7 linked regions of the Homo sapiens genome follow. The protein of the gene in region 5 interacts with the protein of the main gene of each other region in a pairwise test. Each region holds a gene or a part of one and is shown on either strand. Other genes may lie near its edges. The genes, in order: DEUP1, BICD2, NINL, VPS9D1, CCHCR1, MAD1L1 and CCDC13.

The links.
Region 1: the proteins of CCHCR1 (region 5) and DEUP1 interact in binary tests that used the Homo sapiens proteins (3 or more experiments, as listed by UniProt).
Region 2: the proteins of CCHCR1 (region 5) and BICD2 interact in binary tests that used the Homo sapiens proteins (3 or more experiments, as listed by UniProt).
Region 3: the proteins of CCHCR1 (region 5) and NINL interact in binary tests that used the Homo sapiens proteins (3 or more experiments, as listed by UniProt).
Region 4: the proteins of CCHCR1 (region 5) and VPS9D1 interact in binary tests that used the Homo sapiens proteins (3 or more experiments, as listed by UniProt).
Region 6: the proteins of CCHCR1 (region 5) and MAD1L1 interact in binary tests that used the Homo sapiens proteins (3 or more experiments, as listed by UniProt).
Region 7: the proteins of CCHCR1 (region 5) and CCDC13 interact in binary tests that used the Homo sapiens proteins (3 or more experiments, as listed by UniProt).

What each region holds. Positions count from the first base shown.
Region 1 is NC_000011.10:93,435,242-93,438,741, reverse strand, and holds the end of DEUP1 (deuterosome assembly protein 1), read right to left. Parts: intron 1,200-3,500; coding exon 1,023-1,199; 3' UTR 272-1,022; downstream 1-271. UniProt on the Homo sapiens protein: Key structural component of the deuterosome, a structure that promotes de novo centriole amplification in multiciliated cells.
Region 2 is NC_000009.12:92,730,334-92,733,833, forward strand, and holds part of BICD2 (protein bicaudal D homolog 2), read right to left. Parts: intron 1-3,500. UniProt on the Homo sapiens protein: Acts as an adapter protein linking the dynein motor complex to various cargos and converts dynein from a non-processive to a highly processive motor in the presence of dynactin.
Region 3 is NC_000020.11:25,575,532-25,579,031, forward strand, and holds part of NINL (ninein-like protein), read right to left. Parts: intron 1-3,500. UniProt on the Homo sapiens protein: Involved in the microtubule organization in interphase cells. Overexpression induces the fragmentation of the Golgi, and causes lysosomes to disperse toward the cell periphery; it also interferes with mitotic spindle assembly.
Region 4 is NC_000016.10:89,714,399-89,717,898, reverse strand, and holds part of VPS9D1 (VPS9 domain-containing protein 1), read left to right. Parts: exon of another isoform or gene 1-555; intron 556-994; exon of another isoform or gene 995-1,076; coding exon 1,077-1,169; exon of another isoform or gene 1,170-1,274; coding exon 1,275-1,437; intron 1,438-3,500.
Region 5 is NC_000006.12:31,151,303-31,154,802, forward strand, and holds part of CCHCR1 (coiled-coil alpha-helical rod protein 1), read right to left. Parts: intron 3,498-3,500; coding exon 3,194-3,497; intron 1-3,193. UniProt on the Homo sapiens protein: May be a regulator of keratinocyte proliferation or differentiation.
Region 6 is NC_000007.14:2,226,446-2,229,945, reverse strand, and holds part of MAD1L1 (mitotic spindle assembly checkpoint protein MAD1), read left to right. Parts: intron 1-3,500. UniProt on the Homo sapiens protein: Component of the spindle-assembly checkpoint that prevents the onset of anaphase until all chromosomes are properly aligned at the metaphase plate.
Region 7 is NC_000003.12:42,738,754-42,742,253, reverse strand, and holds part of CCDC13 (coiled-coil domain-containing protein 13), read left to right. Parts: intron 1-1,166; exon of another isoform or gene 1,167-1,279; intron 1,280-2,443; coding exon 2,444-2,620; intron 2,621-3,500. UniProt on the Homo sapiens protein: Required for primary cilia formation and promotes the localization of the ciliopathy protein BBS4 to both centriolar satellites and cilia.

The sequences.
Region 1 (3,500 bases), on a different chromosome or scaffold from region 5:
TTTATCTTTCAGTATGATGAGATTGTTTCTTTAAAGGGAAATAGAGAACTGTAAAAGCTGTAGTAGGACTTACCTTCTTTCATAATCTCTCTTCATATATACATATATATATATATATAGAGAGAGAGAGAGACATATATATACACACACACACATATGTGAAACTCTTAAAGTATATTGTATTATTGCTGTGTATTTGTAACTCTGTTTTATTGTTCACAGCCATGCTATTACTGTTCTATACAGATTTAGCATTTATGCTTCAAGTCCATTGAATTTTACATTCCTTTATTGTATTAAAAACAGAAGTGATTACAAAGGAAAATGTAGCAACAGTAATGCTTTATATTTCCTTTATCTTGTTTGTGTCCATGAAGTAATTAGTACTAACAAAAAAGCGTTAATTTTTGGCACATATATTTTAGGTTTGTAAATTGCACATTCCATATACCTTCATTGTGTTGAAACAGACAGACATTATAAAGGTGAATGTAAAAACAATAAAGCTATAGCTTTTTTTTTCCAAAAAATTATAGAATTTTAGAGTGTTTACATAACTGGAAATACTTAAATATTTTTATTTATAAAATCCTTGAGTTTTCAAAACCAGTACAACTGAGCTGCCTTTGAGTCATTTGTATCTGGAATATAGCACTTCCCTTTCTCTTATTTTGTGTAGTTGCTGAGGAAATGGGTTTTCAGTATACATGATTCAAGTGGGGAAAAAAAACTGCATATTTGATTCCAAAATATTCCTTAGACTGGAAAAAAATCTCTTTTGGAATAGTCATGTTTATTTTATAGTAACTCTACAGCAGGACAATTTAGCATGTTAATGCAGAAATGTGAACAGCTTTATAGAACAAAATACTTACTATTTTCTAGCTGCCTTACGGAAATTATTTACTCAAGGAAACAGAACAGAATTTCTTGGTTTCATTAATCAGCTTTGTAAATATTTTGCCAGAGCTTTTTTTCTTGGCGGGGGTGGGGGGGGGAAGCAAATAAAAAAGTTTAAAAGCTCATATGTGTCTATTTTGTTTTAGCTTGGAGTATTTATTAAGAGTAAATTCTGTGTGTCTTTGCAGTTCATCAATATGTGTATTTAGAAGTTTTTCAAGTTCTTTTGCTCGTTTCTCTTCTTCCAGAAGGAAATGCTGTGCAGCCAAAGATGCTGGGAAGGACATATCTGGGGGAGACTAAAGAGAGAAAGAAAGAAAAGTGAGTGAGGAATACAGAGCTTTAAAAAATCTTCCCATTTCCAGGCATGCTTCATCCCTGACATACTGTCAAACACCGCAGCTCTTAATGAAAGAATACATCCTGGGCTGAATTCCCACTACTAGTGTAATTCAGTTACCACTAATGAAATCCTCAAGGAACTAAGTAAGACATCACAGCACCATTACATTAAAAAGCTCTACAAATGAGTGTTATATTGTCCAACTGCAAATGCAGGGACAATGCACTCACCATGGAACCTGCCTAAAACATGCTGCAATCATTTGCAAAGCCAATGATTTTCATTTGAAAATAGGCAACTCCAAAAAGCTAAAGTAAAGATTATAGTGGAATTGCACTAGACAGTTTATAGAGAAGAAAATAAGGATTGGCTTTGACAGGGAGAATCAATGCTTGGAGTTAGCCAGGTGAGAGGGCTGGCTGCATGATGTGTCTTGGGGTGGAGGTGGCTCCCTAGTAGGGAAGGCTTGATGCTGGCATGTATCTTGTTTGTCTTATCACAGAGAAGAAAGTATCAGGGACAAGTGCCCCAATTCCACCCTTCATGGTGACATGAAAATGCTATTTAATTGTTTGTGACCTGTTTAGTGCTTATTTAAAAAAAAATAAAAATCTGTGGCTAAAGAATAAAGGACAACATCAGATAATTTTACAATTCTTCGTTTTGAAAAGCCACATACAAAAATTAAGTAATTTTTTTTTGTTGGGGAAATCTGTACTTTAATTTTCCAGTTCTGTGGTTGCTATATTCTTCTTTGATTTTCATTTTGGTAGGAAGAATGGGACTTTATGTAGTGTTTGGGGAGTCGACAATCTGTATACATGTGAACCTTGTTAGGTGGATTTTGTTCACCAATCTGGCCCCTGCCAAAACTAGGGATCATGCAAATGATGGAGTACTGCACACTTTTCCAACCAGTAGGCCCAACTGTAGCTGCTGTGTCAGGGATAGTATCTCTACTAGAGAAGACTATCACAGCCTGGGGTAGATGGTATGCTACTATTGATCTGGCAAATGCATTATTTTTAATATTGGCAAATGCATTCTTTTTAATATCTAATAAAAAGGAGGATAGGAAGCAGTTAGCATTCACATGTGGTGGCCAACAATATATATCCATGGTTTTGCCCCAAAGTTATGTTAATGAAGCTGTCACAATAAATTCTGAAGGGGCCTAGCCCATCTGGACATTCCAAAGACTATCACATGGAACATCATATATTAACACTAACATCATGTTAATGAGACTTGATGAGCAAGAAGTGGCAAGTATGTTAAAGGGATGGAAAGATGTATGTACTCCAGAAGGTGAAAGATAAACCCCATAAAAGATTGGGGCTTGACACATTGTTTTTAGGTGTCTACTGCTATGTGGCATGTCAGAACATCCTAGGTAAAGCAAAAATTAATGCACCTTGAAAATGTTCCACCCTTGGATCAAATAATTGAATAATCTGATTCATTTATTGGGTGACACAGAAAAAATTTTTTTTTTTTTTTTTTGAGACGGAGTCTCACTCTGTCGCCCACACTGGAGTGCAGTGGCGTGATCTCGGCTCACTGCAAGCTCCACCTCCCGGGTTCACGCCATTCTCCTGCCTCAGCCTCCCGAGTAGCTGGGACTACAGGCGCCCGCCACCACTCCCGGCTAATTTTTTGTATTTTTAGTAGAGACGGGGTTTCACCATGTTAGCCAGGATGGTCTCGATCTCCTGACCTCGTGATCTGCCCTCCTCGGCCTCCCAAAGTGCTGGGATTACAGGCGTGAGCCACCATGCCTGGTGAAAAAATTATTTTGTGAGAAAGCCCAGAACTCTGGAAAGAAAGAGCTGTGTAGGAGGTTCAGGATAGGGTACAAGTAGTCCTGCTACTTTGGTCAAATAACTTGGTAGATCCCATACTAGAAGAATCTCTGGTAAAGAAAAATGCCTTGTGGAGCCTCTGGCAAGTTTCATCGGGAAAGCTGTGTTGCAGACCCTTAAGATTCTGGAACAAGGCTATGCTATCTGTAGCAGAAACCTATATACTATTTGCAAGACAATTCTTGTCATGCTGTTGAGTCCTGGTTGAGACTCCAGCAAGTGGACAGGATGATTTGATCCAGCCTTTGTCTTTGGCTACCTCAGTGGGAATTATGCATCATCCCAATACCATGATTTCCCCTTTCACCAAGGGTAATCCAGCTGCTATTGCTGTTGAATGTCTGACCTGCTTGCAACAGAAACCAAAGCTGAGCTCTTGATATGGCATCATCCCT
Region 2 (3,500 bases), on a different chromosome or scaffold from region 5:
ACTCATTTACTATTTAATATTAAATCTAAGAATTCAGTCCAAGAAAATAGGGAAAATGTAAAAAACCATGAATAAGGATGTTACTGAGCAGGACAGTTTCTAATTTCAAGAAATCAAAACAAAGAGTAACTCATTTCGTCCCAACAGGAGACTGGTAAAAGAAACCAGGGTCTAGTCTGAGTATAGACTCTCATGGGACCAACAGGGGACTCAAGGGGAAGACAGACTGATTGATCTTACAGCACTGTGAGGATCACAGGATCCTGCCTGGAAGAGCACACATGTGCTATGGCAGGTGTGGTGACATGTGCTGTGATGTATGTGTTGTGTGTGTGTGTCTCGTGGTGTTGCGGGGGACACCCCTAAACAAGGCTAACAGGACAACACAGCCCAGCAGGAAGACTGGTGCTGGCAATGGGACTGCACGGGGGGACTCGGGATTGACATGGACACTCCTGCTGCGGATGCACAGATGTCTATGGCACCCACACTCCTGAGGAGGCTGGGTCTTGCTCACCTGCCCCCACCCATCAACACAACACCCACTACGTGGAAGATGTCCGCTTTTCTTCAAGGCAATCGGGTCAGCTCTGTGATTTCTGCTCTGTTCTTCCTTATCCTAGTCCCAAGGAAGGTCCAAATCATAATGTCTACACAGCACCTCATCCACCCTGGCCAGCCACCCCGGGCCACAAGAAGGGAAACCGGACATGGAATTGGCCCCAGCTGCAGGCTCCCCACCCAAGTGGCAGCCAGGCCCCAAGTCCCTCATTGGGTGAAGGGCCCGCCGGCTGCAGGCGGCATGGGCAGCGCCAGACCATCTGGGCCTCCTGACAAGCAGGAGGGACCCAAATGAAGGGTCCAGCACACATGGCTGCTCAGAACACACCCACGAGCCTGGAGCTGGGGATGCAGACATCACCTCAGAAGCTTCCTCCAGGTATGACAGCTAAATGCCATGACACGACATTCAAGTCCTAGCCTCCTGGCCTGAGCCCTGGATCTTTTCCTCTGCTTAAGCTCCCAGCCTGGGGCCCAAAACACTCCTGGGCAGCTTTTCAAACACACTGAGATACAGACTTCCGCGTACAGCCAAGATGAGATTGTTGCAGAAATTAGAACTACCTTCTGTGTGAAAACTTAAAAAAAAAAAAGAAAAAGAAAAAAACCAGGCAATGATAGAATATAAATAAATAATAAGCAGTGGTTTTCACATCATGGGCACTAGATAGTGAGAGACAGGAGGAGGGGAGTTCCAGGAGCCCCCTCCACCAAAAGAACTTCCCAGCCATGGAAAAATGGGAGACTGAGGCAAGGCGTGGCAGACCCTGTCAAGGAGGGACTGGAAGATGGCGGAAGATGGCAGCAGGGCAGCCAAGCTAGGCAGACCTGCACACAGGGCCAGAATCTCCACTGAGGACCAGGGAGCACAGAGCTGAAGAAGTCACTGAAGGACCACTGAGGGGGCAGAGAAAGCAATCCCCACCATTTATACCAGCCAAAAACAGTACCTGCTCCCAACAGCAGAGGAGAGCCCTCCTGATGCACAGGCAGCTGGGGAGCACTCCCAGGGCCTGAAAAAATTAGTCTGGATTAAATCTGCTCTGATACCACAGAGCAAAGCATAAAGACAAAACCTGAAAGGATCAATCTGATTCCAAGTCACTTAACTACATCCCAGAACAAAGCTCAAGAACACATGAAGGAATACAAAAACATCCATCTCCCAACAGGTGAGGTCCACTGGCTGGCATCCCGTCACTTACCACTGAGCAGGCAAAGGCGCACAAATGAGGAAGACAGAAAAAGATCCAGATAGAACTTCTAGAGACGAAAAGTACAGTGGATGGGATTCACAGCAGATAAAACAATGCAGAAGAAAAGATCAGTCAACTTGAAAAACCACAGCAAACTATCCAAAATGAAACACAGAGAAAAAAAGGCTAAAAGACAAAAGCAAGACTCAAACAGAGCATTGGTGAAGTATGAAGTATGACACAATTTCAAGAAGCCTTATGTAAGGAGTAATTGGAGTACCCAAAGGAGAAAAAGGGGAAAATAGAAAAAGTAATTGAAGAAATAAATCATAGCTGAAAATTTTCCAAATTTGATGAAAATTATAAACCCACAGATATCAGCAGCTTGTCAACACCAAGCACAAGAAATATGAAGCAAACTACACCAAGGCATAATATAAAATTGTTTAAAACCAATTATATAATAAAAATATTTAAATCAGCCAGAAGAAAAAGGATACATGACTCAAGAGGAGCAAAGATAAATGACAGCTGATTTCTCTAACAAGCCAGGAGATAGTGGAACAACATCTTTTAAACAACAAAACAAAAAAACTTAACTAGAATGCTATACTCACTGAAAACTGTTCACAAATAGAGGTGAAATACTTTAGAGATACAAAAGCTGAAAGAATTTATCAACAGCAGATATGCATTGGTATTTAAAGATATGCTAAATAAAATCCTTCAGGCAGAAGAAAAATAATACCATATGGAAATCTTTATCTACATGGAAGAAATGATAATTAAATAGGCAAATATAAAGTACTTATTTTTCTTATTTAAATCTCTTTAAAAGATAATTAACTTGAAATTCAATGCAATCCCTACCAAAATTCCAAAGCCTTTTTAGCAGAAATGGAAAAGGTGATTTTCAAATTCATATGGAATTGCAAAGGGCCTAGAAGAGCTAAAACAATATTGAAAGGGAATAACAACGTGAGAGAACTCACAATTTCAAAACTTAATACAAAGCTACAGTGATCAAAACAATGTGGTACTAGTGTAAAGATAGATACAGAGACCAACGGGATAGAATAGAGTCCAGAAATAAAACCTCATATATATGGTCAATTGATTTTTGGCAAGGGTACAAAAATAATTTGATGTCAAAGAATAGTTTTTCGGCCAGGCACGGTGGCTCATGCTTGTAATCCCAGCACTTTGGAAGGTCGAGGCGGGCAGATCACGAGGTCAGGAGTTCGAGACCAGCCTGGCCAACATAGTGAAACCTCGTCTCTACTAAAAATAAAAAAAAATTAGCTGGGCGTGGTGGCGGGTGCCTGTAATCCCAGCTTCTTGGGAGGCTGAGGCAGGAGAATGGTTTGAACCCAGGAGGCAGAGGTTGCAGTGAACCGAGATCACGCCACTGTATTCCAACCTGGACGACAGAGGAAAAAAAAAAAAGTTTTTCAACAAATGATGCTGGGGCAAGTAGATACATATATGCAAAATAATGAAGCTGAACCCCTACCTCACATTATACACAAAAATTAACTCAAAATGAATCAAATACCTAAATATAAGAACTAAAACTATAAAACTTTCAGAAGATAGGCTGGGTGCGGTGGCTCATGCTTGTAATCCCAGCACTTCGGGAGGCCGAGGCGGGCAGATCACGAGGTCAGGAGATCGAGACCATCCTGGCTAACACAGTGAAACCCCGTCTCTACTAAAAATACAAAAAATTAGCCAGGCGTGGCG
Region 3 (3,500 bases), on a different chromosome or scaffold from region 5:
CATGAGGTCAGGAATTCGAGACCAGCTCGGCCAACATGGTGAAACCCCGTCTCTACTAAAAAGTAAAAAATTAGCTGGGCATGGTGGCGTGGGCCTGTAATCCCAGTTACTCAGGAGGCTGAGGCAGGAGAATTGTTGGAACCCAGGAGGCAAAGGTTGCAGTGAGCCGAGATCGCGCCATCCAGCCTGGGCGACAGAGCAAGTACTCAGTCTCAAAAAAAACACAAAACAACAAAAAAAAAAACTTGTAAGAATAGTACAAAAAATTCTCCAATACTCCCTCACTCGGCTGGCTTCACCACCTGTTTCCACTTTTCCCCTTTACCACAACCATTTTGTCATTTTCTCTCCCTCACTTCCTCCCTCCCTCCATATCATCTATCTACCCCTGCTCCTCTCCTTCTCCATTTGAAATCGGGTATCAGACTTTGTGCCCCTGTATCCCTAAATAGTTCAAAATGTATTCACTAAGCTCAAGGAGACAGTCACAGTACAACAAACTAGGGAAATTTGACATTTATACAATCCACCATTCAGATCAAATTCTGTCCATGGTGCCAACAATGTCCTTTACAGCTATCTTTTTCACCCCAGTCCAGTTTCCAATTCAGAGACAAGCACTGTACACGGTTTTCCTGTCCCTTTAAACCAGACCATTTTCTCAGTCTCTGTTTCTGAACTTTGAAGTCTTTGGAGTAGACACAGGCAGGGCGTTATGTAGAATGTCCCAGAGTCTGTCTGGTGTCTGCACAATTAGATTCAAGGGTGGCAGGAACACCTGGGTCAGGTGTGTCCTTGGCACATCTCATGGGGGGCACAGATGTCTCATAACTGGTGACAGTAACTGCAATCGCTTGGTTAGCATGGTGACTGCAGCAGGGTAGTCACCTTTATGTGAGTTTGAATTATGAGAAGTTTATTCATTTTTATTTTATTTTACTTTTTTGAGACAAGATCTTGCTCTGTTACCCAGGCTGGAGTGCGGTGGTGCATCCCCACTCACTGTAGCCTCCACTTCCCGTGCTCAAGTGATCCTCCTACCTCAGCTTCTCAAGTAGCTTGAACCACAGGCACATGCCACTGTGCCTAGCTAATTTTTCATTTTTTTTTGGTAGAGATGGGGTTTCAGTACATTGCCCAGGTTGGTCTCGAACTCCTGAACTCAAGAGATCCTCTCACCTCAGCCTCCCAAAGTTCTGGGATTACATGCATGTGCCACCGTGCCAGCCTGAGAATTTTAAGTGGTGAAAGTCTACAATGATAAGAGTCTTACTTTATGTGCACAGTTGGAAATAATAAAAATTCAGTAAGAATTTAAAATGTATCAAGAATTGCTTCGCTTTAAAGCTGTGCAACAGTGTACACTATCAAGTACAGTTTAAAACTTTTGCCACAGAGCAAGGCCTGGCTGGTCTTGAACTATGCAGGCTGTGGACTGTGTCCACTTCAGACCTGCCCCTGCAAACATCCTGCTTGACACAGTTTCCTGAGGAACCGTACCAGAAATCAGTACAGGCCATTAATGTAGATTGTGGGGTTCCGAAATTGGGCATCCACGTTTCTGTCCCTACCCAGAGTTGGGGAAAATCTCAGCCTGTCACTTACCTTCATTTGGGGCCTTGGAGAGCAGTGACAACGTTGCCTGAAGCAGGGAGCTAACTGGCCGGGCTGCAGCCCGCCCTCTGGAGTCCCTGCTGGTCATCCCAGGACCGTGGGTACTCAGTTTTACTCACTGGTCCACATGGAGACACGCGTCCCCAAGTCTGTTCAAGGCCCTGCCGCCTCTCCTGTGTTGGAGACCTGGCACGCTACCCACTTCTGCCTGCCTGGTTTTGTCCTCCTCCCGAGCATGGCTGGAAGTCCCAAGGCCACGTGGCCGGACAGTCCAGCACATCCCTCCTCAGGTCACTTGAGTACAGGACAGGCAGAGGCCTTCCAGATACAAGGAGCTCTCCCTGGGGTTGGGACAACCTACTCAAAATCTGCACCGAGCAGACTCTCCCTGTTGATTTTTAAATAATTAATAGCTGTTTACTACATTCCTATGCCCTTGAAACGAAAACTCCAAGTTAGTGAATATTGCACTATATTGACTGATGCTGGTTCTCATGTTTAGGGTCTGACACCACCCATGACTCTAAGGGGAACCTGGAGGTCCTCTTTGTGAATAGAGCTCCTGTGAGGTCCATCCTGGCGGGGGAGCCCACCACCCCTCTTTGTGTGGGGCCAGCAGAAGCTCGGGGCTTACTACTGTCCTAGTCCCAGGAACAGACTCATTTTTCTGAAATATTTTCTTTTCTTTTCTTTTTTTTTTTTTTGAGATGGAGTTTCACTCTCGTTGCCCAGGCTGGAATGCAATGGCGCGATCTCGGCTCACTGCAATCTCCACCTCGCAGGTTCAAGAGATTCTCCTGCCTCAGCCTATGGAGTAGCTGGGATTACAGGCATGTACCACCACACCTGGCTAATTTTGTATTTTTAGTAGAGATGGGGTTTTTCCACGTTGGTCAGGCTGGTCTTGAACTCTCAACCTCAGGTGATCTGCCTGCCTCGGCCTCCCAAAGTGCTGGGATTACAGGCGTGATTTTTTTTTTTTTTAGACGGAATCTCACTCTGGCGCCCATGGAGTGCAGTAGCGCAATCTTGGCTCACTGCAACCTCCGCCTCCCAGGATCAAGCGATTCTTCCATGTCAGCCTCTGGCGTAGCTGGGATTACAGGTGTGCCCCACCACACCTGGCTAATTTTTCTATTTTTGGTAGAGACGGGGATTCACCATGTTGGTCAGGCTGGTCTCAAATTCCTGACCTCAAGTGATCTGCCCGCCTCAATCTCCCAAAGTGCTGCGATTACAGGTATAAGCCACCTCGCCCGGCCCTGAAATGTTATTTCCATGGGCGCACACACGCACACAAAGCCACAAAAAGCAAAGCACAATTCATTAAGTCCTTAATACTCTTGCTTAAAAATGGAATTTGATTAGCTGGGCGCAGTGGTTCATACCTGTAATCCCAGCACTTTGGGAGGCTGAGGCAGGTGGATCATGAGGTCAGGAGACCGAGACCATCCTGGCTAACACGGTGAAACCCCGTCTCTACTAAAAATAGAAAAAATTAGCCGGGCATGGTGGCGGGCGCATGTAGTCCCAGCTACTCAGGAGGCTGAGGCAGGAGAATGGCGTGAACCTGGGAGGTGGAGCTTGCAGTGAGCGGAGATCGCCCACTACCACTCTAGCCTGGGTGACAGAGCGAGACTCCATCTCCAAAAAAAAAAAAAAAAAAAGGAATTTGATCAAGCAGTAAAGCTCAAGCAAAATTAAATTAAATTAAATTAAATGGAGTCATGCACATGCCTGTAGTCCCAGCTACTTGGGAGGCTGAGGTGGGAGAATGCTTGAACCCAGGAGTTCAAGTCAAGCCAGGCAACACAGTGAAACCCTGTCTCTAAAACATAAATAAATAAAATAAAAATGGGACTTTGAGCTAACAGTCCTCATACTGC
Region 4 (3,500 bases), on a different chromosome or scaffold from region 5:
CGGGGGAGCCCCTGGACGTGGGATCACAGAGGTCGGGGCAGCCACTGGACGTAGGATCACACAGGTCAGGGGGAGCTAACAGTTGCCCCAGCTCCCTAGGGAGCCGGTGAGCTCGGCTGAGCTCTGGCGCTCCAAGATTGAGGAGTTGGGTGGAGGAGTGGCAGAGGATCCCCTGGGGAGAGCAAAGTCCCAGAAGACAGAGGAACTCCAGTGGCCCACCGTGTCTGGCAAGGTGGGGACGGGTAAGGGCAGTTTCCGGGGGGAGTCGGGGGCTAAATCGGGGCGGGATGAGAAAATGGGAGTCTATGAGAAGTTTTCTGTGAAGGGCAGCAGGGAGGTGGGTCAGGCGCTGGGGCGGTGGGTCCAGGGGCGAGTCACAGAGAGGCAGCTCCCACGGCGCGCAGAAGGGCTGTGTGAGCAGGTCCATGGTCGCGCAGAGGTGCTCCATGCCAAGCTACGGGAAGGCAGGACTTTGGGGACACAGCCGGTGGGAGATGGGTGAGGCGATCCCCTCAGCACGTCCTTGTCTCTGTAAAACGGCCACTTCCCAGAGGCCTGCAGTTGCAAGTGAAGCTGAGTGAGCACTAAAGGCCTGTTTAGGGTCGAGGCTGTGACGGGCCTCGATGAGGGGCCCACAGCCTTAGCAGACTCAGGAGGCAAAACCAGGGCAGATGATTAGAAATGCGTGGGTGGGGGGACTTGCCTGGGGTCCATGGTGGGGGCAGGGGCCTTGCCTGGGGTCCATGAGGAATAGTCGGCTTGCCCGGGGTCAGTGGGGGGTGGAAGGGGCAGTGGGCTTACCCGGGGTGAGGGGATGGGGGGGCAGTGGGCTTGCCTAGGGTCAGTCAGTTGGGGGACGGGAGGGGCAGTGGGCTTACCCGGGGTGAGGGGATGGGGGGGCAGTGGGCTTGCCCAGGGTCAGTGAGGGGATGGGGGGGCAGTGGGCTTGCCCGGGGTCAGTGGGGGTGCTGAGGGGGGCAGTGGGCTTGCCTGCCTTTTCCGTTGCCTCATTTTATCTCAGCAGTAAGTAACAGTGGTAGAGCCGACTGTGACCAGCCTTCTTGTCCCTCCCCCAGAAGCTGGGGAAACTGTGCCCCCCGACACCTCCAAGATGCTGAAGCTAGCACAGCAGTGTCTGGAGAGGGCCCAGTCGACGGCCGCCAAGCTTGGTGGGTCTCCTGCAGTAGGCGGCTCTCCTGGGGCATCCCCCAAGCCCGCATCTCCTCTGTGGGATGTGGCCCACCGCTTGACCCCTGGTTACCCATGGCTTGCAGGGAAAACACGCCTGAAGCCAACCATGCCTGCAGCTGCTCCCATTCCCCAGCCTGCCGGCCGACACCGCCGTGTATACTCCGATGAAGGAGGAAAGCTCTCTCCTTTTCTGCCACCCGAGATCTTCCAGAAGCTTCAGGGGGCAGAGTCACAAAGCTGTAAGAAGTAAGATGGACAAGATGGGAGGTGGGATGAGCCTGGGATTGGGTTTTTGAGGCTGAGAAAGATGAGCTGATGACAGCGATTTTTTTTTTGTTTTTTGAGACAGAGTCTCACTCTGTCACCCAGGCTGGAGTGCAGCGGCTCAATCTTGGCTCACGGCAACCTCCACCTCCCGGGTTCACACCATTCTTCTGCCTCAGCCTCCCAAGTAGCTGAGACTACAGGCGCCCACCACCACACCCAGCTAATTTTTTGTATTTTTAGTAGAGACGGGGTTTTGCCATGTTAGCCAGGATGGTTTCGATCTCCTGACCTCGTGATGCGCCTGCCTCGGCCTCCCACAGTGCTGGGATTACAGCGTGAGTCACCGCGCCCGGCCCCCACAGTGCTGGGATTACAGGCATGAGCCACTGCGCCTGGCCTGACAGCGAATGTTTTTAAAATGAGTCCCAGAATGGGAATATCCCCTGGCCGGACACAAGCAAATGCAGGCGGCCTGGTGGCTCACGCCTGTAATCCCAGCACTGTAGGAGGCCGAGGCGAGCAGATCACCTGAGGTCAGGAGTTCCTGACCAGCCTGGCCAACATGGTAAAACCCCGTCTTTACTAAAAATACAAAAATTAGCTGGCCGTGGTGGTGTGCACCTGTAATCCCAGCTACTCAGGAGGCTGAGTCCAGGAGAATCGCTTGATCCTGGAAGGTGGAGGTTGCAGTGAGCGAAGATTGTGCCACTGCACTCCAGCCTGGGCAACAAGAGTGAAACTCCGTCTCAAAAAAAATTAGGCATAGTGGTGTGCCCCTGTAGTCCCAACTACTAGGGAGGCTGAGGTGGGAGGCTCACTTGAGCCTGACAGGTTGAGGGTGCAGTGAGCCGTGATTGTGCCAGTGCACTCCAGCTTGGGCAACAAAATGAGACTCTGTCTAAAAAAAAAAAAAATGACCGGGCGCGGTGGCTCACGCCTGTAATCCCAGCACTTTGGGAGGCCGAGGTGGGTGGATCATGAGGTCAGGAGATCGAGACCATCCTGGCCAACAAGGTGAAACCCCATCTCTACTAAAAATACAAAAAATTAGCTGGGCGTGGTGGCGGGCACCTATAGTCCCAGCTACTCAGGAGGCTGAGGCAGGAGAATCCCTTGAACCCAGGAGGCAGAGGTTGCAGTGAGTTGAGATTGCGCCACTGCATTCCAGCCTGGGCGACAGAGCAAGACTCCATCTCAAAAAAAAAAAAAAAAAAATTTAGCTGGGAACAAGGATGAGTTATATATCTATATATATGTAGAAATCCATACATACAAAACTGAGCAGACAAGTTTATAACAGCAGAGCAGATATAGCTGAAGAGCAAATTCATGTATTGGAAAAAAGGTCAAAAGATAGCTAGAATGAATTACAGAAACAAAAAATAAAGACAGAAAACAAGAGATGGAAAGCCTAACGTGTTCGTTGGAGTTCCAGAAAGAAAATGGGAGGGAGGCCAAGGCAGGCAGATCACAAGGTCAGGAGTTCAAGACCAGCCTGGCTAACATGGTGAAACCCCATCTCTACTAAAAATACAAAACTTAGCTGGGCATGGTGGCGCGTGCCTGTAACCCCAGCTACTTGGGAGGCTGAGGCAGGAGAATCGCTTGAACCCAGGAGGTGGAGGTTGCAGTGAGCCAAGATCGTGCCACTGCACTCCAGCCTAGCAACAGAGCGAGACTCCGGCTCAAAAAAAAAGAAGAAAGAAAATGGGAGAGAGGCATTATTAGAAGTTAGAATGGCAGACAGTTGTCTAGAACTGATGAAAGATACAAAGACACAAATGCAAAAAGCCCAGTGACTCCCAAGTGGGAGAGACGAGAAGGGTCCACTCCTCCTGCCCCTGCTCTGGCGGGGCCTGGCTTCCCAGTCCCCTTGTTTCTGCAATGTGGCTTCAGGGCAGGGTGGCCAGGCGTCAGGCTCTGACTTTCCTCCTTGTCCTCCATTGTCCCTGACAGTGGGAAGGTACGAGGGAACAAAGCTTTCAAGGTGGAGTGGCTGTTGGGAACTGTATAAAGGAGACAGGACACTTCTTCCTTTCATG
Region 5 (3,500 bases):
TGTCCGATCTCCCCCAAAACATATCTTCACCTCTCTGTCTCCGTCTCCACTGCCACCAACCCTCATCTTTTGCCTGGGCAACAGCGACCATCTCCTAACTAGTCTTTACAAACCCTCAGTGGCTTCTCACAGCATTCACAACAAAACCCAGGTGTCTCTCCACACCTGCAGGCCAGGGGACCCGGCCTCTGCCTACCTCCTGAGCTCACCCTGGAGGCTCTCCCACTGCTCCCCGCTCCGGCCACGGGGAGTCTGCTGAGAACCAGACAGCGGCCCCTCCTTGCTCCACAGACCCCAGGCGATAGCCCCTCCTCAGGGTGGCTTCACTGGGCCCTCTAATACCGTCCCTCCCCACCCTACTCTGCCCCATCAGCTGTTCACGTCCTCCTGAGCACTTAGCACTGACCATATCTTGCTTATGTGTATGTGTTACTATCTGTCGGACCACACTGGAAGGAAAGCTCCAGGAAAGGAGGAATTTTGTGTCTTTTGCTCATGGCACCTCAAAGGGTTGCAGGGGTGTCAGAGCCACCAAGAGTCATGGGATGGACTGGAAAGGAGGGCAAAGTGCCCACCCTGCTTCCTGGTCTGCCTCCTCTAGCCCTGTCTCCATACAACAATAAAATTAATTTGGGGGACATAAATGACAAAATTTTTTAGACATAAAATACAAATCTAATCATGTTATTTCCCTGCTTAAAACCTTTCAACAGGCCGGGCGCAGTGGCTCATTCCTGTAATTCCAGCACTTTGGGAGGCCGAGGTGGGTGGATCACAAGGTCAGGAGATCGAGATCATCCTGGCTAACATGGTGAAACCCCGTCTCTATTAAAATACAAAAAATTAGCTGGGCGTGGTGGCGGGCGCCTGTAGTCCCAGCTACTCGGAAGAATGACTTGAACCCGGGAGGCGGAGCTGGCAGTGAGCCAAGATCGCGCCACTGCACTCCAGCCTGGGCGACAGAGCGAGACTCCATCTCAAAAAAAAAAAAAAAACAACCTTTCAACGGTTGCTTATTACTTGAAAAAACAATTTTTTTTTGTTTGTTTTTTTGGAGATGGAGTTTCACTTTGTTGCCTAGACTGGAGTGCAATGGCACGATCTCAGCTCACTGCAAACGCTGCCTCCCAGGTTCAAGCGATTCTCCTGCCTCACCCTCCTGAGTAGCTGAGATTACAGGCATGAGCCACCACGCCCAGCTAATTTTTGTATTTTTAGTAGAGATGAGGTTTTACCATGTTGGCCAGGCTGGTCTCGAACTCCTGACCTCAAGTGATCCACCCGCCTCAGCTTCCCAAAGTGCTAGGATTACACATGTGAGCAACCATGCCCAGCCCTAATTTCTTCCATAAAATAGAGATGGGGGTCTCGCTTTGTTGCCCAGGCTGGTCTCAAACTCCTGGGCTCAAATGATCCTTCCACCTTGGCCTCCCAAAGTGCTAGGATTACAGGTATGAGCCACTGTGCCCAGCCTGCTCATTGCTCTTATGGGAAAGTAGCAAGTTCTGAAGTGGCCAAAGCCTTGTGCCCTGGGCCCTGGGCTCTGCAGCACACTCAGTGCCCCTCATCTCTGTGCCCCAGCCTTCTGGCCTCCTGTCCCCGCCTTCACCTGTTGTCCCACCAAGTGTCTTCCAGCTACCACTGGACTTCACACGCCTCTTCACTGGCCAACTCCTATTCAGCACAAACGGTAGCTTGTTGTTTTTTTAGTCTCGCTCTGCTGCCCAGGCTGGAGTGTGATGTCAGCTCACTGTAACCTCTGTCTCCCAGGTTCAAGCAATTCTCCTGCCTCAGCCTCCCAAGAAGCTGGGGGATTACAGGCGCCCACGACTATACCCGGCTAATTTTTGTATTTTTTTGTAGAGTTCTTCATGTTGGCCAGGTTGGTCTTTAACTCCTGGCCTCAAGTGATCCGCCCACCTCGGCCTCCCAAAGTGCTGGGATTACAGGCATGAGCCACTGTGCCTGGCCTAGCTTCTTGTTTCTAAGTTTCTTTCATAAATCTCCTTTGTCCATTTTCTGATTGGATTGCTGGTCTTTCCCTTACCAATTTCTAGGCACACATTTTATATTAGGGATATTACCCTTTTCTTGTGATCTGAGCTATAAATATAGCTTTTTTTTTTCTTTTTGGCTATTCCTAATGTTCATGTTATAAAGTCAATGGATCAATTTTTTCCTTTATGGCTTCTAGATTTTGGATTTTGACTCACAGGTAGAAAGGCCTTGCCCACTACAAGGTTATAAAGGAATTCTCCCTTGTTTTCTCCCAGTTCCTTTTTTATTTTATTTTTTGAGACAGAGTCTTGCTCTGTCGCCCAGGCTGGAGTGCAATGGCACAGTCTCGGCTCACTGCAACCTCCACTGCCCAGGTTCAAGTGATTCTCCTGCCTCGGCCTCCCAAGTAGCTGGGATTACAGGTGCGCACCACCACGCCTGGTGAATTTTTGTATTTTTAGTAGAGACAGGGTTTCGCCATGTTGGCCAGGCTGGTCTTGAACTCCTGACCTTGTGATCTGCCTGCTTCGGCCTCCCAAAATGCTGGGATTACAGGCGTGAGCCACTGCGCCCAGGGCTATGGTTTCTTTCCTTGACATGTCAACTGGTTACAGTGGCCTTCCCTGAACCCCAGACTAAGTTAGTGCTTTCTAGTCCTTCTCCTTCAAGGCATTCCTCCTGATTGCAATTAATTATGATTAAATTAAATGTGGATGTGTATATCCCCCACGAGGCTGTCAGTTCCATCCACGAAGGCAGGACTCAGGCTAATTTGGTCACTGAGTCTTAGAGATGGCAAAGAGTAAGTACTGAGTTTGAGGACTGAATAATCTCTCTCTCCCAGTCCACCATAGCCCCCTTATACCCACCTTCCTCACTGCCCTCCACAATACCCCTGATGAATTGGTACCTGGAGTAAAGTAGGGAGGCAAACTATTTCCTACTAGAAAGGGAAGCAGGGCTTCAAGTGGTGGGAGGCCACCTGAGTCTTGGGGGAAAAGTGCAACCTGAATTAAGATAAAAGTACCCAAATTCTCCATCTTTCTAGGCCATGTGTGTTTATTTTCACCAAAGGTCTCATCACTCTACTACTCACTACTCATGGAGGGTCTTTTCTGCAATACCTGTTCTTTGCTTGGAAGCTACTGCCCAGCTCTCCGTTATGAATTTGAATCCTTTCTACCCCTGCATTCACCTGCTCTTGGTGCAGCCTCTGAACCTCTTCCAGCTCCCGCTGGCTCCCCTCTTCCAAGTTCTTCCGGACAACCTCAGCCCCAGCCAAAGCAGCACGCAGGCCCTCAGCCTCAGCTCGGCCGGCCTTCTCCGCCCGTGCCAGAGCCTCTAGCTCCATGGCCTGGGCCTCTAGCCTCATCTTCTGCTGCAGCGAGGTCTCCCGCAGGAGCCGGACCTCCTCCTCCAGCCGCCGCAGCTCTTGCAGCTGCCGAACGATCACCTCAGCCTGCTGGCTCAGGGCCTGTGACCCCTCCAGCCCCCAGGACCTT
Region 6 (3,500 bases), on a different chromosome or scaffold from region 5:
AGACCCTGGGCCCGGGCAGGACCTCTTCCAGTCTTCTGTAGTTGAGGTGGGTCGGTATTAGCAGAGCCTAGAGACAGCTATTCGTCTCCCAGGTCTCACTATGGGCACTCCTCATTTTGGGGTCGTAGCTGGAGGCTAGTTGGGGCCCTGAGCCATCCTGGCTTAAAGGCCTGCCTTGTTAGCGCCCTGAGTGGGCCTGGCGCTCAGCATTGCGTTCACACAAGTGCACTCACAGACCCTGGTGACAGGATCGGAAAGCCAGTTCATTCATCTAATTGAGGACAGAACCCAAACTGCCTGGGGGAGTGAGCACCAGGACTGTCGGGAAGGCTGTGTTGGAAACACAGTGCTGAGAGTGCCTGGGCAGCCCAGAGACAAAGCCACAGCAGTGAGCAGAAGGACTGGGTGTTTTGTGGTCTCAGACTGTGGAGGGCCATTTACAGATTTTGGGGTGATTTTTACAGTTTTCTTCTATAAAATAGTTGTATTTTGTTTCATTACAAGTTCTTGGGGTTTCTCACTGTAGACACAACTGCAGAGGATTCAGGCCTCCTGAAGGACTTCAGGCTCCAAAGAGTGATGAGCCCAGTCCCAGTTGGGGCTGCGATAATGGGGCCCCCAAGTTGTAGGGAGTGGTGGGGAGTGGAGTGCTGGCTAGTAGTGTCTCCAGCCTTGCCTGGGCCCTGTGGCTGCGCAGGCTCCTCTAGGCTCCTCTGCCTGGACCCTCTTTCCCAGTCCCTGCTGCGGTCCCCAGAGCCGTTCTGTAGTTCTGTCCGCATTAGAGGAGGCTCTGGCTTCCTGCGCTCTCAGAGCCCAGATGAGGCCCTGCTGCATTTGGTTAAACTGTGTGTGCGTGTGCATTTGTTTTGTTGCATAATTGAATTAATGTGTGTTTATTAGAATGCTAGCTTGTGGCCAGATGTGGTGGCTCAGGCCTGTAATCCCAGCACTTTGGGAGGCTGAGGTGGGCGGATCATGAGGTCAGGAGATCAAGATCATCCTGGCTAACACGGTGAAACCCTGTCTCTACTAAAAATACAAAAAATTAGCTGGGCGTGGCACCTGTAGTCCCAGCTACTCGGGAGGCTGGAGCAGGAGAATGGTGTGAACCCGGGAGTCAGAGCTTGCAGTGAGCTGAGATTGCGCCACCGCACTCCAGCCTGGGTGACAGAGTGAGACCCTGTCTCAAAAAAAAAAAAAGAATGCTAGTTGCTAGCTTGCTCACTGCCCTTTCTTGATGAGGACTGTTTTTTATTCTGAGATTAGGTCATATATATATATATGTGTGTGTGTATATATATAATATTTATGTAAATGTTCTTTTGTGAAATTATGAAGGTAATAGATGGTAGTTGTTTTTTATCACTGACAAAATGAGAAGTGGCCAACTCTGAGCTGGTTGCAGTGGCTCATGCCTATAACCCCAGCACTTTGGGAGGCTGAGGTGGCTGGATCACTTGAGGTCAGGAATTTGAGACCAGCCTGACCAACATGGTAAGACCTCATCTCTACTAAAAATACAAAAATTAGGCGGGTGTGGGCACCTGTAATCCCACCTACTCGGGAGGCTGAGGCAGGAGAATCGCTTGAACCTGGGAGGCGGAGGTTGCAGTGAGCCATCGCGCCACTGCACTCCAGCCCGGGTGACAGAGTTGGCAACTCTGGTCTGAAATGCTGTGATTTTAGTGTTGCGAATGTCTGGGACCTCTTGGCCTGTCTGTCAAAGCTGTGGGATTCTAGAGTCTGTCTTGGGGCTCGGAGGCCCCCAGTGCTCACTGGTAAAGGCCTCTCGGTGAGGGGATCAGTGATGGAGTGCGGTAGTCAGAGCAAGGTGGTGAGCGGAGTGATGGCGGCAAGACCAGCCTTGGTCCCTGGCCCCTGTCACATCCCATTCCTGGACTTCGTCGTGGTTCTCTCTCTCCTGCTGAGCCCCCGGCGTGGCAGGGAGGGCCTGGAGAACATGGCAGGCCGGGGGAATGTGTGCTGTCTGGTTTCTCACACATCGTGTTGATTTAACGTAAGGGTAAACTTTCAGGGTTCCTTTCTTTCCGTTGTAGTCAGCTCCAGGCAGAGGTGGCACACGGATCAGGTGTGTCTGGGACTCCTGGTCCCTGCCGGTCGTGCCCCCTGCAGGCGGGGTGCCCACCCTTCTCGAGAGGCTCAGGCTTGACTGCAGACACAGAAGTGAGACCAGGAAGGCTGCTGAGTTTGAAGGGCAGTCTTAGGAACGCCCAAACAGCAGCAGCTGAGAATCGAGACACAGTAACATAGGAGTAAAGGAAGTGTGGGCTTGGGCCACCAGAGAACACAGGTGGGAGGACAGAGAAACTTCCCTCCCCTGTCCCAGGCTTTCCTGGCCTTGGCACGCTTGGCATTTGGGCTGGGTAATTCTTTTTTCTCAGGACTTTCTTGTGCATTGTGGGCTGTTTAACAACTTCCCTGGCCTCTACCCCCTGGACGCCAGCCAGCAGCAGACACATGTGACCACCCCCCTGTGACAATCAGGTGTCTCCAGACAGGGCCAGATGTTCCCAGGGGCAAAACTGGACCCCACTGGGAACCACCACTCTACTCTGGTGCTTCTCAACCTTTCATGTGCATGTGAACGCCCTGAGAATGTGTCTAAAAAGAAGTTTCTTTTTTTCTTTTGGAGATAGGGTCTTACTCTGTCATCCAGGCTGGAGTGCAGTGGTACAATGTTGGCTCACTGCAGCCTCCGTCTCCTGGGTTCAAGTGATTCTCCCTCCTCAGCCTCCCGAGTAGCTGAGATTACAGGTGCGTTACCACCACACTCGGCTAATTTTCATAGTTTTGAGTAGAGACAGGGTTTCACCATGTTGGCCAGGCTGGTCTCAAACTCCTGACCTCAAGTTATGTACCCACCTTGGCCCCCCGAACTGCTGGGATTACAGACGTGAGCCACCACGCCTGGCCTAGATTCTTTTGTTTTTTTTTTTTTGAGACGAACTCTTGCCCTGTCATCCAGGCTGGAATGCAGTGGTGTGATCTTGGCTCACTGCAACCTTCGCCTCCTGGGTTCAAGCGATTCTCCTGCCTCAGCCTGAGTAGCTGGGGTTACAGGTGCGTACCACCACGACCAGCTAATTTTTGTATTTTTAGTAGAGACGGGGTTTCCCCATGTTGGCCAGGCTGGTCTTGAACTCCTGGCCTCAAGTGATCCACCCGCCTTGGCCTCTCAAAGTACTGGGATTACAGGTGTGAGCCACCACACCCAACCTAAAGAGAAGATTCTGACTGAGTAGGTCTGGGGTGTAGTCTGCGACTCTGCATTTGTTAAGTGCCGGGAGATGCTGCACTGCAAGGCTCTGGGCCACGTGAAGAGTCAGTGACTCTGCCTTTTCCTCCAGCTGAGCAGGTCGTACCCAAAGGCCGGCTCTGGAACTATTTGGCAAGTCTTCTGGGGCTCTTTGAGGCTCAGCTAACCTGTAATCACTAGCCCTGTGTGGTAGGCAGACTTCTGAGAGGGCCCCCAGGAGCTC
Region 7 (3,500 bases), on a different chromosome or scaffold from region 5:
CAAAGTCCCAGAATTGAGTGTCTTTGGTCTAGCCTGGGTTATGTGACCATCCTTGAGCCCATCACTGTAGCCAAGAGTACAGGGTGTTTTGATTGGTCAAGCTTCAGACACCTGCCCCAAGGTTTGAGGGGATGAGTTAGCCTCCCCAAACTTGCAATGAGAGTAGGGAGTAGGGGCCACTTTAAAGAAGGTAACAGAAGCAGCATGAAGAGGTGCAGGCAGGCCATACAACAGGCCCACGTAGTGGCCCTGGCAGTGAGCTACCTAACAGTGAGGACTTGCCTTTTCATCTGGAGACTTTTGCCTGTGAGCACCAACGCTGGGTTAGGCCCTGTGTTAGGAATGCTGTAACCATGACCACATTGCACCTCCCAGCGCTGTAGACCATCAGCTGTGAGGAGGGAAACAGTGAGACCACAGAAGTGGACAGGGCCTGCTGGGCTTTGTATGCCAGCCAGGACTTTTGGCCTGTATCTTGAAGGCTGTGGAGAACCACCAAACGGTTTTTGTTTTTTTTTAGATAGAGTCTCGCTCTGTTGCCCAGGCTGGAGTGCAATGGTGTGATCTTGGCTTACTGCAACCTCCGCCTCCGGGGTTCAAGTGATTCTCCTGCCTCAGCCTCCCAAGTAGCTGGGATTACAGGCACCTGCCACCATGCCCGGCTAATTTTTATATATTTAGTAGAGACAGGGTTTCACTGTGTTGGTCAGGCTGGTCTCAAATTCCTAACGTCAGGTGATCCACCTGCCTCGGCCTCACAAAGTGCTGGGATTACAGGTGTGAGCCATTCGCCGAGCCCACGACAGGGTTTTAATTTGTGGAGGGAGGTGGTCAGCTGTGCATTTTGGAAAGGTCACATGGTTGGAGCAAGAGGAGGAATGGGTTGGAAGAGGAATGGAAGGCAGAATAGTAATCCTGGAGACATGACCAAAGATCTTTGCCAAGATAGTGGACTGTCATGGAAGGGCCAGACACCTGGGACAGTGAGGACAGACTTTCTAGGGCTCAAGGACTGATTGGACTTGGAAGAGAGATGAGGAGGAAGAGTTATAAAGGACTTCTAGGGAGTATAGTGGGTGGGTAAGGGAGACAGGGTGGGTTCAAGAAGAGAAAGGGAGTTGAGATTTGGAAATGCTGGGTTTGAAATGCACCTAGCTTGAACTTACATGTTAGTGCAGAACAGATTATGTTGAACAGTTGGGCTGACCATAAGCTGCAATAGCGGGTGGAAGGAAACAGCTTCCTGCATGCATTCCCTCTGGCAGGCACCCATAAGAGCCTGGAGTGTGTAGGCAGGAGAGCAACAGGTGAGTAATGGCTGCCTCCCTGCAAAGGGCTTGTGTCCTATAGATTCATGTTTTACTTGTTTTGCATTTCTATAATTCACTTCATCAAGGATATGAAAATACTTTTCCAGCAACAATTCACCCTCAGGATCAAGCAGGTGATGTCACCCACTGCCCAAGCTCCTCCCCAATGTCTCCATCTTGTCTTTATGGGTTTGCCTAATCTAACCTCTGCCCCTTCACTCACTGTGCTCCAGCCACACACCTTCTACCCCAGGGCCTTTGCTCTTCCCTTCATCTCCTTCAGTCTCTGCTCAGATGCCACCTTTTCAGAAAGGCCTTACCTGACCATATCCTTCTCGCTATTCCTGTTTCCTACTTTCAAATTAGCATTTGTCACTATTTGACATTATCTGTCTCCTCCATTAGGATTATCAGCTCCTTGAGGACAAGGACTGTTTTGCTTTTTGCTGTCCCCCAGCATCTATAACAATACTAAGCCCATAGTAGGCCCTCAGGAAACCATAGTAGGAAACCTCAGGAAACCCATAGTAGGCCCTCAGGAAACCCTCGAGAATGAAGGGATGATTGAATGAGAGACTCCGAAGATGTGTGCTGCATGTGAGTTTCCAGTTGGTAGCTGACAAAGCAAGGTGCTGTCAGGGGTTGTGCCAAATAATCATGGAGGAAGTGGGAGAAAAGACCCTCCTTTCTCATTCTAGCTCCTGGTGGTGCAAGGTGCTGCAGTTGGAACCTAGCCCAGCACTCTTTTTCTAAAGTATGGCTTTTCTCTTTTCCCCTGCTTGGGGAGGGGCTTAGGGGTAGGACTGGCTGTGCTCTCTGGAGGACACACGCAGTTGGCTGGCGGCTTTCCTCTCATGTGCTAGGAAGTCTGTGTCTCAGGCTGAGGTTAGGAGTGCTGTCATGGGTTAGTGCTGTCATGTGCTAGGGGAAGGGTGGGAGGCTGCTGGCCACCTGATATCCCTGAGAGGCCTGGGCTGGGAGTCAGGGCCCTGGCTCTAGTGACTTGCTCTGTGGCATTCAACAAGCACCCCCACCCCCAGCCCCGGGCCTTGCCATTGAGTAGGAGCCAGGGAGCAGATGTGGCCAAGGTCCCACACAGCCCTGCTGCCCATGCCCTCACTTTCTAATTACAGAAACTTGCCAGTGAACGGGATGTCCTCCAGAGAGAGCTTGAAGAGCTAAAAAAGAAGTTCGAGGGCATGAGGTCTCGGAACAAGCTGCTGTCAAGTGAGATGAAGACCCTCAAGAGTCAGATGGGAACCCTGGTGGAGAAGGGCCGGCATGATGACGAGCTCATCGACGCCCTCATGGTATGGCCCCACCACTCAGGCAGGGCGAGAGCCAGGGGTGGTTCCTCAAAGGATGGGCCCCAGCCATGGCCAGAGTGAGCCCTCACTCACCCCTCAATGCCACCTGTGTAACCCCAAAGCCCGTTGCCTCCAGATGGCCCCCAGTACCAAAGCCCTGCCCCAGGGACAGGAGCAGCTCAGGGAGGCTGCCTGAGGGCAGGTAGGGGGCTGTGATGGAGCAGCACCAGGCACAAGGCACTGGGCCTATGGACCCCAAAAGAGACAGAAATGTATTGGGGGAAGGAGGTGGGATTATACCCTGGGTTATTTTTCAGCAAGGAATGAAAGGGACAAGAGGAGCCAGTACCAGTTCTTATCTCTGCAGTGGCACAGAACCCTTCCTCTTCTGGGCATGTTATAATGCTTAGTCCCTAAGATAACTTCTAGGATCATATATTTTAATCCCACTTCACAGATGGGGAAACTAAGACTCAAATTCATTAGATAACTCATCTAAGACCATACAACTGAGTTCAAAGCAGGTTTATCTGACTATAAAAACTTCCTGGATTAAACGTATCTCAAAATAATAAGAGCTATTTATGACAAACCCACAGCCAATATCATACTGAATGGGCAAAAACTGGAAGCATTCCCTTTGAAAACCAGCACAGGACAAGGATGCCCTCTCTCACCACTCCTATTCAACATAGTGTTGGAAGTTCTGGCCAGGGCGATCAGGCAAGAGAAAGAAATAAAGGGTATTCAAATAGGAAATGAGGAAGTCAAATTGTTCCTGTTTGCAGATGACATGATTGTATATTTAGAAAACCCCATCATCTCAGCCCAAAATCTCCTTAAGCTGATAAGCAACTTCAGGAGTCTCAGGATACAAAATCAA